Regions from separate parts of the Homo sapiens genome. Here region 1 is linked to region 2. The links come from fine-mapping of genetic effects on gene expression. A gene starts in region 2. The other region holds a variant in brackets. All regions are shown on one strand. Distances are from middle to middle. Region 1 has its middle 47 kb from the start of TDRP. Region 2 holds the start of TDRP (testis development related protein).

Evidence for each region.
Region 1: its variant is fine-mapped to the expression of TDRP in whole blood (TOPMed, PIP above 0.99).

What each region holds. Positions count from the first base shown.
Region 1 is chr8:587,593-595,924 of GRCh38, reverse strand. No RefSeq gene overlaps it. Among named protein-coding and RNA genes, the nearest start is that of TDRP, 47 kb to the right of the region's middle. The variant GA/A (reference allele first, on the strand shown) is at 3,642.
Region 2 is chr8:540,071-548,402 of GRCh38, reverse strand. It overlaps TDRP (testis development related protein), which reads left to right and starts at 3,569. Exons shown (of 3, transcript NM_001384899.1): 1 at 3,569-3,753. The coding sequence starts at 3,646. RefSeq lists an enhancer at 2,090-2,590.

The sequences.
Region 1 (8,332 bases), 48 kb before region 2:
AAATGAGTCTAATATTCAACATTTCTATTAAATTATTTATGTCTATTCTACTTTTAATTGAAAGATTCTGTGTGTAGTTTTGCGGTGTCTGCTCTTATTTCACGGCCACCCTGTTTCTCTGCGAATATCATAGGTTTGTCTGCGTCCTACTCCCTCCATCCACTCGGCTTCCTCCAGGTTTCTCTCTGGGTCTGTGTCATGTTAGGGTCTCCCTGGGTCTCTGGCCTGCATCCTCCACACAGACCCCCCACCCCAACCCACTCACATGCAGGAAGCAGCCACATGTGCTTCCAATGGGAGTGGATGGTGTGTGGGGAGGAGATGCAGCCGGGCTCTTTCCCATAGAGGTTTCCTCCAGTCATCTGCATCCCTCTCCTGAAGGCCTTGCTGGGCATCCCTGCTGTCCTGTGGCCTTCCTGGGTTCCACTAACTGCTCAGGCATGTCCTTCAAGACTGGAGTTTGTGCTGGTGGCAGGGCACTGCAGCTCTCCCATGGTATTCCAAGACTGCCTGCACGTTTGCCATTAGTTCTTTTTTGATTATTGCTTTTCAATAGCAGTTCCTTAATTAAACTTTTCTCGATTTACCAAGCTTGAGCGTGTCATGGATTTCCTGCTGGGACCCTGGCTGATAACAGCTCTGCAGCCAAGTGCCCAACAGCTCTGCAGCCAAGGCCCAACAGCTGTAGGAGGCGTATGGGGGCTTGCTTACGAGTGGCCCTCACCTCACAGCAGTGGAGATGGCCCAGTTCTTCCACTGGGGACTCCTAAGTCCAAAGACTGCATTTGTAGATTTTCCCTCCACAGCCAAGAGAGAGGTCCTTTAATTCTTTGACCTCCTGCCTGGGGGTATGAGCCTGGCCTTTGACATTCTGGGAGCTTGGAAGGTGGGTGAGGTATCCCACTCTCCACAGGGGGGCTCCACTCACCCCTCTCAGCAAGGTGTCCTCCACCCTCACTGCCCAGCTGCCCCTGCATGCCTGAGGTGCCTCACAATCACCCGGGCTCCTTGACACCCCTGACTTCTGAGGTTTCCTGAGTCTGGCGCAGATCCCCTGGGTGGTAGCTGGGCTTCCCTGTTCCTGCTTTACCTGAGATTGCTCAGTCCTCCCTCCTGGCCGAGTCTTCCTGTCTTCTCCTCTCTGAGCTTTGTTTTTATGCCTTTTCAATCACTTTATTGCCCTTTTGATTGACAGGTGAAGGAGCAAAGATGGGAGGTCTCTGTCTCTCCATCCTTAGCCCTGCTTTGCTTTAGAGCAAAGATATTGTTGGTTAAAAAAAAAAAAAGCCCTTATCCTTGAGTGATGACCCCCCAGTGTTTAGGAGCAGACGTAGAGAGAAGAGCAGCTTGAGTCTGAGCCACCCAAGGGGTGGACAAATGGACTGGGGAAGGCATCAGGAGCTCCTTGCACGAGGTCCTCTTGTTGTTCTTGTTCCTGTCACTCTTGGCTGACGAAGAACCAAGAAGGAGACTTCCATGATGACCCCGGAGAGAACCACAGTGACTGGCAGGAGGCAGGGGAGGTGAACAGGCCCTTCTCACCAGGGACCCTTGCCTGGCCTCACAGGTCCGAGCCTGCTCCCACGACCAGGTCAGCCAGAGGTGTTTACATGAGAGGGAGAGTGAGGAACACCAGTTTCCGAGGTCCCGGCTGACCTTGACGGTGAGCAGAGGAAGGTTCTCAGGGCCTCAGTGGCCCTTGGAGAACCTGCACTCTAGGGCTCATAGGAGGCACCGCTCTCTTGGAGGCCATGGTGGTGATGAAATGCTGCTTCAGGGGCCTTCTCAGCAACCCATGCCAGTGCCAGGCCTGTGTGGAGGAAGAAGGGAGAGAATGATGAAGGTGAAACCAAGGAGTTGTGCTTAAAACGTCCCCTCACTGAGCTCTCCTCACAGTACTCACTCACATCCCTCCCCTCACAGCGCCCCCTTCACATCCCTCCCCTCAGGGCGCTCCCTTCACATCTCTCCCCTCACGGTGCTCCCCTCACAATGTTTGCTCACATCCCTTTCCTCACAGCGCCCCCCTCACATCCCTCTCCTCACGGTGCTCCCCTCACAACAGTCCCCTCACAGTGCTCCCGTCACAGCACTCTGGCACAGTGCTCCCCTCACATCTCTCCCCTCACGGCGCTCCACTCACATCTCTCCCCTCACAGCGACCCCCTCACATCCTTCTGCTCACGGCACTCCCCTCACATCCTTCCCCTCACGGCGCTCCCCTCACGGCGCTCCCCTCACGACGCTCCCCTCACAGCGCTCCCCTCACATCCCTCCCCTCATAGTGCCCCTCTCACATCCCTCCTCTCAGGGGCTCCCCTCACATCTCTCCCCTCACAGCGCCCCTTCACATCCTTCTGCTCATGGCACTCCTCTCACATCCTTCCCCTCGTGGCGCTCCCCTCACAGCGCCCCTCTCACATCCCTCCCCTCAGGGCGCTCCCCTCACATCTCTCCCCTCACAGTGCCCCCTCACTTCCTTCTGCTCACGGCACTCCCCTCACATCCTTCCACTCATGGCGCTCCCCTCACATCCCTCCCCTCACTGGGCCCCCCTCACATCCTTCCCGTCAGGGCGCTCCCCCCACATGTCTCCGCTCACGGCGCTCCCCTCACAGCACTTGTTCACATCCCTCCCTTCACAGGGCCCCCCCTCACATCCCTCCCCTCACAGAGCTCCCCTCACAGCGCCCCCTTCACATCCCTCCCCTCACAGAGCTCCCCTCACATCCCTCCCCTCACAGTGCTCCCCTCACAGCGCTCTGGCATAGCGCTCCCTTCACAGAGCTCCCCTCACAGCGCCCCCCTCACATCCCTCCCCTCACAGTGCTCCCCTCACAGCGCTCTGGCGCAGCGCTCCCTCACATCCCTCCCCGCGTTCCCTCACAGCGCTCCCCTCACAGAGCTCCCCCCTCACAGCGCTCCCCTCACTGCCCTCCTATCACAGTGCTCTGGCAGGTCTAGAGTCAAGGTGCCCAGGACATTCCAGCCTCCAATGTGTTCCTTTTTATTTATTTACTTTTTGAGACAGGGTCTTGGTCTGCTGCCCGGGCTGGAGTGCAGTTGCGTGATCTCTGCTGACTACTGCCTCAGCCGCCAGGGTAGCTGGGACCACAGGCACCGCCGCGCGCTCCTGGCTTATGTTCTTTTATCCTCCTCTGCAGTACTCTTTCCTCTTCTCCCTCTCAAACCCAGATAGATTACAACCCTTGTTCTCTCTGCTTTCGTTCGGGATATCTCCTGTCTCCAAAATCGTAGAACTGACTCATAAAATATGAGAGCCAGGAAAGACTTTAAAGACAACCTCATCCTGTGAATTTTGGCACCAGATATGAACCTGAAACCTTAAAGTTCCCAACACTGCAATGGGTCAGGCCCTGCTGCGCTGGTGGAGATAAAACGTACTGAGCAGAGGAGAGAAGCTAACAGCATCGGAGAAGCTGACTGGGCTTCAGGGCTACGTGCTGAGGGGAGCAGCTGGGTGCAGAGCCTCGGGAGTAGCCTGTGTGAGAGAGACAGAGAGACAGAAAGAGGAGGAGGAGAAAGAGAGATAATCTGTTATTATGTACCACAAATGTAGCCTCCTCTCAAGATTTTGGGAGAGATTTCAGAAAAGATACATTTGGCTTTTTTCCTTATTT[GA/A]CCCTTTTTTGTCCTTGTTAGTTACTGCTCTGTGTCACTGCCTTTCCAGATGGGATTTTTCATGCTGACAAATAAATTGTGAACTCCTGGGGGCGCCCTCCTCGCTTGCATGCGGATGTCTGGCTCCCATGCATCTCCTCCAGACCTGGCTGCCTGCTGCTGTGACCTCCACGGCTTTGTTCTTCATGAGTGTGTTCCATCACAGTTCCTTGGCCACGTCCACACACACAACGGTGGATTCATTGAAGGGCCTGTGCATTATTCACTCCTGTCCCCTGAGCACAGGAACAGACAGACACATAATAAAATGTGCACAGTGACTCGGTGCCCCACATCCAGAGGTAGTGCCTCACTTGGCCTTCAGAGAGCTCTCCTCTCTCTAACAGATGCATATCATAGGAGAAAGCATGCATAATTTTTCATCGCTCAGAGCAAGATATAACATTTTGAAGACCATCTCAGGCTTTTATTCTCTTCCCTTTAATAACTTACATAAATGCTTTGGGAATGGAACAGTGCGCAGCTCTCAGTGCCTTGCTCTCTGAGTGAGAGTTCATCTGGGGCATCTTTGTTGGATGAAAGGGAGAGGTGCAGCCACAGCAGGAACAGAACTAAGGGCTCCAGGGCACCTTCAGGTCATTGACAGCATTTGATTCTTTGCAGCCGTGGGACTGAAACTCTTGTTTCCTCACTGACTGTCACCTGGGGCCACTCTCAGCTCCTCAGGGCACCTGCATTCTTCTCCCAGGGCCACATCCATCTTTAAAGCCAGTGACGGCAGTGAGCCCAGTCCTTTGCATGCCCTGAATCTGTCTGACTGCCCTTTGCACCAGCTGGGGAAAGCTCCCTGCTTCACCAAATATGTGATGAGATGAAGCCCCTGCCAGGTAACTTTACACAATCATAGGAGCAGCTCCAGGTGCAGGGGCATCCTTAAAACTCTGCTGTCTCAAAGTACCTCCATCCGCAGCAGACACTCCAGGAGGCCTAGAGGAGGAGCCGTCTCTGTAGAGGGAGCCAGGAAGACAGGGCCGGGAAGACAGGGCCGAACTCTTCTTCCCACTAGCGGTGCTTCTGGTAGGCCAAGCCCATCAGAGCACCTGGGCCTCGAGGGCCTGGGCCCCATCTTAGGAACCAGCCTGCAGTGCACGACGGAACTGAGCCATGGATGGAGGTGACAGAGAGGATGTACATCCTGAATGAGCTGTTCCTCAGCTCTTTTTTTTTGCTTTTACAAATGTGATCTTTCCCTTTGTTTGTAGCTTCTAGCTTGTTATTTGCTTAATGAAAGCACTTGGATCGTGTCTTTTAATTTCACACCAGACTGCCTCACTAATTCTCTCATTGTTTGAGTTTGTTTTTCAGTTCATTCTGCCAGATTCTCCAGATATATGGTCTTTATCAGCCTCCTAATTTTGTTATTATTTTATTTTATGTACGTAACATACAACTTACCACTAGTGACATTTAGTGCATTCACAATATTGTGAATCACTTCTGCCTAACGCCATCACCCCAGTGGGAAGCCCTGTCCCCACTAGAAGTCTCTCCCCATCCCCTGGCCCCCAGCCTCTGGCAGTCCCTAATCTGCCACCTGTCTCTGGGCTTGCCTACTCTGGATATGTAAGTGGAACTGTGTAATATGTGGCCTTTCATGCCTGCCTTCTCTCACTTAGTATGTTTTCAAGTTTCATGTATGTGTAGTGTGTGTCAGTGCCTCCTTCCTTTTTGTGGCTAAATAACACTCCATTGTCTGTATACACCACATTTTGCTCACCCGTTTTTCAGCTGATGGGCGTATGGGTTGATTCTACCTTCTGCCTGTTGAAAATAAAGCTGCTATCATCTTCAGCTGATGGGCGTATGTGTTGATTCTACCTTCTGCCTATTGAAAATAAAGCTGCTATCAATGTTCATGAGCAAGTTTCTCTTTGAACACCAGTTATCAATTTGGTGTGGGGGGTTATATACCCAAAACTGGAATTGCTGGGTACTTGTTGAGTTAAACTCTTCCATGGCAGCCTCACCATTTTACAAATCTAAGGCAAGGTACCAATACAGTATAAGAATTCCAATTTCTCTGTCTCTGTTCCAAGATGGCCGAATAGGAACAGCTCCAGTCTACAGCTCCCAGTGTGAGCGACATAGAAGATGGGTGATTTCTGCATTTCCAACTGAGTTACCAGGTTCATCTCACTGGGACTTGTTGGACACTGGGTGCAGCCCATGGAGTGTGAGCTGAAGAAGGGCGGGGCATCACCTCACCTGGCAAGTGCAAAGGATTGGGGAATTCCCTTTCCTAGCCAAGGGAAGCTGTGACAGACAGTACCTGGAAAATTGGGACACTCCTGCCCTAATAGTGTGCTTTTCCAACGGTCTTAGCAAACAGCACACCAGGAAATTATATCCCGTGCCTGGCTTGGAGGGTCCCACACCCATGGAGCCTTGCTCACTGCTAGTAAAGCAGGCCAAGATCGAACTGCAAGGTGGCAGCAAGGCTGGGGGAGGGGCGTCCGCCATTGCTGAGGCTTGACTAGGTAAACAAAGCCAGGAAGCTTGAACTGGGTGGAGCCTACCGCAGCTCAACAAGGCCCACCTGCCTCTGTAGACTCCACCTCTGGGGGCAGGGCATAGCTGAACAAAAGGCAGCAGAAACTTCTGGAGACATAAATGTCCCTGTCTGACAGCTTTGAAGAGACCAGTGGTTCTCCTAGCACAGAGTTTGAGATCTGAGAATGGACAGACTGCCTCCTCAAGTGGGTCCCTGACCCCTGAGTAGCCTAACTGGGAGACACCTCCCAGTAGGGGCTGACTGACACCTCATACAACCAGGTGCCCCTCTGAGATGAAGCTTCCAGAGGAAGGATCAGGCAGCAACATTTGCTGTTCTGCAGCCTCCACTGGAGTGGACCTCCAGCAAACTCCAACAGACCTGCAGCTGAGGGTCCTGACTGTTAGAAGGGAAACTAACAAACAGAAAGGAATAGCATCAACATCAACAAAAAGGACATCCACACCAAAACCCCATCTGTAGGTCACCATCATCGAAGACCAAAGGTAGATAAAACCATAAAGATGGCGAGAAACCAGAGCAGAAAAGCTGAAAATTCTAAAAATCAGAGCACCTCTTCTCCTCCAAAGGAATGCAGCTTCTCGCCAGCAATGGAACAAAGCTGGATGGAGAATGACTTTGACAAGTTGACAGAAGTACACTTCAGAAGATCGGTAATAACAAACTTCTCCAAGCTAAAGGAGGATGTTCGAACCCATCGCAAAGAAGCTACAAACCTTGAAAAAAGATTAGACGAATGGCTAACTAGAATAAACAGCATAGAGAAGACCTTAAATGACCTGATGGAGCTGAAAACTATGGCACGAGAACTACGTGACACATGCACAAGCTTCAGTAGCCAATTCGATCAAGTGGAAGAAGGGGTATCAGTGATTGAAAATCAAATGAATGAAATGAAGTGAGAAGTTTAGAGAAAAAAAGAGTAGAAAGAAACGAACAAAGCCTCCAAGAAATACGGGACTATGTGAAAAGACCAAATCTACATCTGATTGGTGTACCTGGGATGGGGAGAATGGAACCAAGTTGAAAAACATTCTTCAGGATATTATCCAGGAGAACTTCCCCAACCTAGCAAAGCAGGCCAACATTCAAATTCAGGAAATACAGAGAATGCCACAAAGATACTCCTCTAGAAGAGCAACCCCAAGACACATAATTGTCAGATTCACCAAGGTTGAAATGAAGGAAAAAATGTTAAGGGCAGCCAGACAGAAAGATTGGGTTACCCACAAAGAGAAACTCATCAGACTAACAGCAGATCTCTCAGCAGAAACTCTACAAGGCAGAAGAGAGTGGGGGCCAATATTCAACATTCTTTTTTTTTTTTTTTTTTTTTTTTTGAGACGGAGTCTCGCTCTGTGGCCCAGGCAGGAGTGCAGTGGCGCAATCTCGGCTCACTGCAAGCTCCGCCTCCAGGGTTCACGCCATTCTCCTGCCTCAGCCTCCCGAGTAGCTGGGACTACAGGCGCCCACCATCACGCCCGGCTAATTTTTTTTGTATTTTTAGTAGAGACGGGGTTTCACCGTGTTAGCCAGGATGGTCTCGATCTCCTGACCTCGTGATCCGCCCGCCTCGGCCTCCCAAAGTGCTGGGATTACAAGCGTGAGCCACCGCGCCCGGCCTCAACATTCTTAAAGAAAAGAATTTTCAACCCAGAATTTCATATCCAGACTAAGCTTCATAAGTGAAGGAGAAATAAAGTCCTTTACAGACAAGCAAATGCTGAGAGATTTTTGTCACCACCAGGCCTGCCTTACAAGAGCTCCTGAAGGAATCACTAAACATGGAAAGAAACAACTGGTATCAGCCACTGCAAAAACATGCCAAATTATAAAGTCCATCGATGCTAGGAAGAAACTGCATCAACTAACGAGCAAAATAACCAGCTAACATCATAATGACAGGATCAAATTCACACATAACAATATTAACCTTAAATGTAAATGGGCTAAATGCCCCAATTAAAAGACACAGACTGGCAAATTGGATAAAGACTCAAGACCCATCAGTGTGCTGCTGTATTCAGGAGACCCATCTCACGTGCAGAGACACATATAGGCTCAAAATAAAGGGATGGAGGAAGATCTACCAAGCAAATGGAAAACAAAAAACAAAGC
Region 2 (8,332 bases):
ATTGGATATTTATCCAAAGGAAAGAAAATTGTTATATCAAAGGGATATTTGCATACCCATGTTTATTGAAGCATTAATCACAATAGTAAAGATATGGAGTCAACCTAAGTGTCCATCAACAGATGAATGGATGAAGAAAATGTGGTGCATATACAGAATGGAATAGTATTTGGTCATAAAAAGGAATCATATCCTGTCATTTGCAGCAACATGGATGGAACTGGAGATCATTATGTTAAGTGAAATAAGCCAGACATAGACAAATATCACATGTTCTCACTCATATGTGAGAGCTAAAAAAAAATCCTGATATCCTGGAGGTAGAGAATAGAATGGTAGTTACCAGATGCTGGGAAGGTGTGTATGTTGGGGGAGAAGTAAAGTCAGGTTGGTTAATGAGTACAAACATGCAGTTAGAAGGCAATGTTTGATAGGAGAGTAGTGTAGCTATAGTTAGTAACAATGCATTGTATAGTCCAAAATAGCTAGAAAGGAAAACTTGAAATATTACCAACACATAGAATTGAAAAATACCCAAGTTGATATATACCCCAAATATCCTAACTTGATCATTACACATTCCGTGCTTGTAACAATATATCAAATGTACCCCCAAATATGTAAAATATTATGTATCCATTTTTTAAAAAAGTCAGAGGACTGAGGGTACAACTGTCTTAAGATCCAGCCTCTGCCGAATCACCTCCATGGATAAGAAACTTGTAGTTTTTAAACAGCTTTGGTTGCTAGAAAGTTCTATATGGCACCCCAAACCCCACTCCTATTTAAAATTAAGTCTGCCAGAGCAAAATCTCACTAAATTGAGCCTTATGCATTTTGAATTCAGAGAGAGATGACACGCTTGATCTTTACATCTAAAAAATTAGAGTTCCTGTACCAGTGAATTTTCAGTGGCCAAATTAGCCAATAAGGGCAATTCAGTTTAAAATGAATAGCTTCCTTCAACTGAGGCCTCAGCAGATGAAAAGGTTGTTTAACCATGACTTTCTCGATCCCAAAATGGATTTTTAGTGGTAACAATTGTATTTTTATGACACTGGATTGTGTAAAGTATGCCTCTTATGGACCTTAACAATAGCATGACTTAATTATATAAAACTCATAGAGGAGCTAATGAATGAACTGAGTCAAATTCATAGTACTCGGGAAAGTTCTTCTCAAAATTCCAGAAATGCCTGCTGCTCCGTAACAGCCGTTTCACCGGCTTCTCCCACCCAACCCCCTTCCCTCTCATTTGTGCCAGGCCTTTAGGTTGTAGATATCCTGACTAGCTGTGCTCTTCTTCAGAAGAAAGCTAAATGTCTAAAATATTCAGTAAGTTAGCTTTTTTATTTAGCAAGGCTCACCTTCTTCCAGATTGTCATAGATTTGCAGGGGATTACAGTTTAATGACAATTCATGGAGTGGATGTTGCTAGACTGAGAGGAAGCCAGCTGTCTGGGCATAAGCCCTGTGTTCCTTCGCATTAGCCAGGGGGATTTGTGTTATTTGTCCAAGTGTTCTGAGTTGGTTTTCTGTGTTTTATTTGTAGCGTCTTTATATGGGCTGTGTTTGGATCCTGACTTTGTTTTGCAACCTCTGTTTGATAGTTTTTGACTTTCATCAGTTTGTGCTTGCAATGTGCTTATTTTGACAGCACCCCGGAGCCACACCATGCCATCTTGCATTTGCAATTTTCTAAGCCCCCTAGCCCAGGAGGCCAGGCCTATTAGGCCTTGTTTGAAAAGGAGCATATATACATTTTTAACATTCTTATTATTTGCGTGAAGATGAACTCTCAAATTTAGTTTGTACTGGGTGGAGTGGTCCTTAGTAGGCGCCAGTGTTTAATTCTATTTCGTGATGTTTGCGGCCGGTAGGTTTAGCGGTCACCGGGGGAGGGAGGCATGTGGGAGGGGTGCTGCCCTCCTCTCTGGGTGACGGTATAGTTAGGTTAGTATCGTTAGGTTATTATCTGGCTCTTCCCACTCGGCTGGGGGCTCCTGCCAGGCCCAGCCCCCGCCCTCCCTGTGCGTCCCGCGCCAGGGCCCCAGGTCCCCCCAGGCCTTGGGCACGGGCGCCACCCCCTCGGTTCTCCGGGATCCTGGCCGGCATCTCCCAAAGGCAGTTCAGAGCCCCTTTCATCTTAAAAGCTTTGCTGCTCATCACTTCTGGGAAACTCAAAATGTACATTTCATTTTTTTAAGAGTCGTAAAGTTACGAAGCTTGCAGTTTTCAAGGGAGCTCATAGTTCTGGATCCTCCTTCAAAATGCGCTTTTACATGACTGAACACATGAATACATATTTGGTGTAAGAAGCGATACGAAGCGCGTCGCGGGAAAAATTAACCTGCTGGGCGGGAGCGGACGCCTAGAATCCCCCGTTCCCGCGGCTCCGTCCCGGGATCGGGGGTCGCCTCGCCGGCTCCTTTCGGCCTGGGAACCAGGCGGTTCTGCCCTCAGGAATCTGTGGGCGCCTCTCCCGCTCCTGATTCTGACAAAGCCATAGCCACGCGGGAAAACGTTCTCCGGGCCCTGAGCCCCAACCTGGGCGCCGCGGGGGTCCCAAGGGTTCTGCGCGGCCCGGCACCACGGCCCCATCCCCGCCCCCCACCGCCGTCAGTCCGGGCCGAGCCCGCGGCGCCCCAGGCCCCAGCGGCCCCACCGCCCACCAGGGCTGGGCGAGGCTTCCTCCCGGCGCCCCCACTATCCCGCGACCTCGGGCGCCGGAGGGGATGAGTCCCGGATGCCCGGCGCCCAGGCCCCGAGGGATGCCCTGAAGCGCTGGGGTACAGGCGCCGCTCCGCGGACTGTGCCCCCTCCACCTTCCCCTCAGCCTTGCCGCGGCCTGAGCGCCAGCGGCGCGCATGCGCACTGCGCTCCCGGCCGTTGCCTTGGTGACCCGAGCGGACGTGGCCACGCCCTCCGGCCAGGGTCTGGGAAAGGGTGGGGGGAGGGGGCAGTCCGGGAGTAAGTGGGGGTCGGCGGGGGAGAAGGAGAGAACCGGGAGAGGGGAATTTGCGGGGGCCGGGTGGGGGCTCGGGGGTAGAGGAGGACCCAGGGAACCGGGGATAGGGCAGGGCTAGGGGCTCGGTGGGGGCTCAGGATGGGGGCGTTTCCGGGTGAGGAAGCAGCTAGGGGCGGGTAGGTGGGGGTCAAGGTGGGGGGACCAGGTGACGGGGTAGCCTGGGGTGAGGACGTCGTTCAGTAGAACAGTGAAGGGCGAGGGTCTCGCCGGGGCGGTGGCGGGGACCACACTGGGAGGAGGGGGCCGGGGTTGACCTTTCTGTGGGGGATGGGATTCGGAGCCCCGTCGAATTTGGGGGTGGGTCTGGTCCTGGGGAAGGTTTGGGGGCGGGTCTGGTCTTCGGAAGGGTTTGGGGCGGGCCTGGTCCTGAGGAGGGCTTGGAGCGGGCCTGGTTCTGGGGATGGTTTGGGGGCGGGCCGGGTCCTGGGGAGGGTTTGGGGCGGGCCTGGTGGGGAGGGGGCGGGCCTAGTTCTGGGGGTGCCCCGCCCCCGCCTAGCCCCGCCCGGCCCACTGGGCCCGCGTCCCGCAGGAGCCGCAGGCAGAGCGTCCGGCGGCCGGGAGGGACGCGGAGCCACAGCCCGACGCACGGACGGAGGGACGCCGGAGCCCGCCTGACCATGTGGAAGCTGGGCCGGGGCCGAGTGCTGCTGGACGAGCCCCCCGAGGAGGAGGACGGCCTGCGTGGGGGGCCGCCACCGGCCGCCGCCGCCGCCGCCCAGGCGCAGGTGAGGGGGTGCGCAGGTGGGGAGTGCTAGTAGGCCGGGGGCGCGCAGGTGGAGGGCGAGGGTGGGCGGCGCGCAGGTGGAGGTGCGGGTAGTTGGGGGCACAGTTTGGGCGGGCAGGTGAGGTTGGGGCCGCGTAGCTCCGGGGCGCGGCCCGCTAGGTGCCCGAGTGCGGAGTCGGAGAACTTGACCCGAGGCTCGTCCTGGGCTGAGTTGCCGCTGTGGTCCGCGTGGACCCACTCCCCGCTTAACTGGCCAGGGCTGCCGGCGTTCTCGCCGCTTGCAGGGGACCCAGTGCCCCCTGCACGTGTTACTCGGGGCGCAGTCCCAGGAGAGCGGGGACGCAGTGCGCGCACCCCGCGGCGCGGGCGTCGTGGGCCCGGGACGCAGAGGTCCACGCCGGGTGCTCGCGTCCCGGGTGGAGCTGGCGGAGAAGGCCTGAATCATCGCGCATCCGGACGGCCTCCTCGCGGACACTAAGCAGCTTTGGACGACCGTAGCTCAATGTTAAGTGGGCTAAATGTTTGTTTGCATAACAAGTATTTTCTTAAATTCTTGATTTTTCTGAAGGAAGCCGGCAGAAGTCCTTTGTACTGAAAACTGAAAGGCCTTTACCTGACGAGTGTAGAGATATGTTTGGTATGTCTAGAATTTTGTAATTGAAAGGGCTCCCAGGTGGGCCCTGTGTGCCTTAGACGTGCCCTCCCCCACCCCCTCCCCCCCCCTCCCTTTTTCCATTGCAGTGCTCTTTTTCATGTACAATGAAATTTAGGTCAGAAATCCAGCATTCTGGATCATAAAATATCTCTTTCTGTTAAACGTGTGGCAACTTCCTCCTGATGCTGTTAAGGCCGAATGGAATATAAGGATTTGTACCTGTCTTCCGAGGACTTGGAAATAGTTTCTGAGCAGAAGAGTTTCTCTTAGGGTCTGGAGTTGTTTCTTCTTGATAGAGATTTTCTATGAACGTTAAATTCCATTCCTAACTCATGGAAAATGGAGCCGATTATGTTAAGCGCTTAAATATGGTTACTATCTGAACTTGTCTGAGAAATTTCTTTTAGGTAGCGTTAGTGCTTACGTGCCTTTTTTTTTTTTAATTTCAGAATGTTATAGTTACTCTAAACAGCTCTCTTCTTGAATGTAATGATGAGAATTTATATGTGGCTACAGAGTTAACTGCAGAAGCTACAAATAACTAATATTGGTCAAAGATGAGCCATATTATTGTTTCTGGATAGAGCCTTGAGAATTTTAAACTGAGTCTTCCTATGTTCTCCCATTTTTCCTAATGAATCCTGAAACCCACTTTTTTTTCTTAAGTTTTTATTTTTTATTTTGAGACAGGGTCTTGCCCCGTTTACTAGGCTGGAGTGCAGTGGCGCAATCTCGGCTCACTACGGCCTCAACCTGCCTGGGCTCAAGCTATTCTCCTCTCTCAGCCTCTGTAGTAGCTGGGACTACAAGTGCGCACCACCTCACCTGGCTAATTTTAAAAAACCGTTTTTGTGGAAATGGGGTCTTGCTATGTTGTCCAGGCAGATCTGAAACTCCTGGGCTCACGTGATCCGCCCGCCTCAGCCTCCCAAGGTACTAGGATCACAGGCGTGAGTCACCACGCCTGGCCTTAAGTTCTTACTTTGAAAAATTTCTAACATGCGGAAAAGTAGAAGAATAGGAGATTCTTCCTCGTATCCTCCAGCTAGATTCAATTGCTGGCAGTGCCTTCGTTAAAGCTCCTTTTCTGATTTTCCCTTTACACAATTGTCATCTATACTTTTTTTTTTTTTTTTTTGAGATGAAGTTTCGCTCTTGTCGCCCAGGGTGGGGTGCAGTGGCGTGATCTCAGCTCACTGCACCCTCCCGGGTTCAAGTGATTCTCCTGCCTCAGCCTCTTGAGTAGCTGGGATTACGAGCATGTGTCACCACGCCTGGCTAATTTTGTATTTTTAGTAGAGACAGAGTTGTCCATGTTGGTCAGGCTGGTCTCGAACTCATGATCTCAGGTGATCTGCCCTCCTCGGCCTTCTGAAGTGCTGGGATTACAGGCGTGAGCCACCGCGCCTGGCCTGTTATCTGTACATCTAAAGTGTGTGTTGGTTTTGGGGGGAAAAAACTTTAATAGACTCTATTTTTCAGGTATCCAGTTTTAGGTGCCCAGCAAATTTGAGGAGAAAGTACAGAGAGTTCTCATGGATCCCCAGCCCCCCACTATCATCACCCCCACAGAATGGTGCGTTTGTTACAATCTGTGGACCTACACGGGCTCATGGTCCTCACCTGGGAGGGCTCACTCGTTGTGCATTCTGTGGTTTGGACAAATGTGTACTGACGTTTGCCCACCATTGTAGTGTCACACACAGGAGTTTTGCTGCCTTAGAGACCCTCTGTGCACCCTCCCTCCCCGGAACCCCTGGCAAACATTGATCTTTGTACTGTCGCCATAGTTTTCCAGAATGTCATTTGGTTGCATTCACAGTGTGTAGCTTTTTCAGGTAGGTTTCTCTCACTTAGAAAGATGCATTTAAGGTTCCTGCATTTCTTTTCACGGCTTGTAGCTCGTTTCTTTTTAGCACTGAATAGTATTCCACTGTTTGGGTGTACCACAGTTTATCCCTTCACCCTCTGGAGGGCATGTTGGTTGCTTTCACGTTTTGGCAATTATGAATAAACATCAGTTTATTCATAGACCAGCTGTAAACATCAGGTGCAGGTTTTTGTGTGAATTTAAGTTTCCAACTTGGGTAAATACCTAGGAGCCTGATTGCTGGATTGCATGGTGAGAGTGTTTAGTTTTATAAGAAACCGCCAAACCGTCTTCCAAAGTGGCTGCACCAGTTTGCACTCCCATGGACAAGGAATGAGATTTCCTTTTGCTCCACCTCCTTGCCAGCATTTGGTGCTGTCAGTATGTAGACTTTGTCCATCCTAGTAGGTGTGTGGTGGTTTCTCTTTGTCTTGAATTGCGATTCCCTGATGATAAATGACATGAGCATCTTTTCAGACGCATACTTGTCATCTGTGTCCCTTTTTTGGTGAGGTGTCTGTTTAGATCTTTCTCCGCATTTTTTAATTAGGTGGTTTGATTTCTCATTGTTGAGTTTTAAGAGTTCTTTGTATGTTTTGGATACTAGTTCTTTATATGTATGTGTTCTATAAAGATTTTCTCCCAATCTGTGGCTTCACATTCTCTTGACAGTGTCTTTTTCAGAGCAGAAGTTTTTAATTTTAATGAAGCTTCACTATGAATTATTTCTTTGATGGATGTGCCTTTGGTATTATATTGAAAAAGCCATCACTGTACCCAAGGTTTTCCCAGTTATGTGCTAGTTGTGAATTTTGACTGTGGTTTTTATGTTACTTTATTAAGGTTATCCAAAGTTTGTGTTGAAAAACATTGCTATATAAAAATAGAGAAAATTTGTGTTAATTATGACAGATTAGTCTTATTCTAAATTTAGTTAATTTCTTCAAGAGGACTGATCTTTATTGCAAAGCTAACTTAGAATTAAGATGTTAGAATTAAATTAGAATTAAATTTTGAAATTCATGAAGAGTCATAAAACTTCTGCCTACAAAATTTTAAAGTTGAGAGAAGTAGGAATTAATATGCAAATAGGATTTAATGAATCTGTTAAATTCACTGTCATGTTAGAAGTTCTCAATTCTGTTTCATTCTTGGTCTTTTGTCCTACCCTCCAAATCTGTCAGTCAGTGTGATGTTAAACGTGCAGGTTGAGAGCACATTCTGCTTGATTCTAGAAAGGCATTCAGTTTGCAATCATATCCGTCCTGTTGCCTTTCTTGAACATCAGGTTACACACCTTTTTTTTTTTTTTTTTTTTTACGTGAAAAAGTAGATAATATTAGGTTCCAATAAATTTGAAATGTGAAGCATTCAAAATTACTTAGATTTATGGGACACTTAACTATTACTAAAATAATTTTAACATTTTAGAAAATAAACTTCTCTGAGAATCTTTTTAGGCTATGGGCCCTTTTTTTTGGTCATAAATACACATCTATTTTGTATTAACATATAACCGCAAGGTTTGTAAGGAGAATCATTCATTGCAATCCTCCAACAGAAAGACGCAAGTTTTCATGAATCTAATGTTACTTGAAGAAAAACTGCTAATGCATATGGTAAAATATTTGTTGAGATTGTCAGGTCTTAACTTCTTCAAAGTTTCTAATGGGAAACATTGTTAAGCTCTTTTGTATATCTGTCCATGAAACATTTATGCAGATACATAGGTGTGTGTTCAGAAACAAAGATTTGCTGTCTCACTGTTAACATTTTTCTGTACCTTGAGTTCCCTTCATAATATGTGTCTCATGGAGTGCTTCCCGTTTCAGTACTGCTAGTTGGAAAAAATCCATTTTAAGGCTGTGGGATACTAAATGATATTAAATTTCTGTGACAAAATTTATTTCATTGGGCCTCTTACGGTGAATATAAAGGTTGCTGAGCCGTCTTCTAACCTCTGCCCTCAAAGTTTTATGCAAATAGTAGAGAAAAGAAGTGCAGAGATCTGTTCAACATGGATGGTTTAGATGGGTCTGACATGGACAGTGTAGA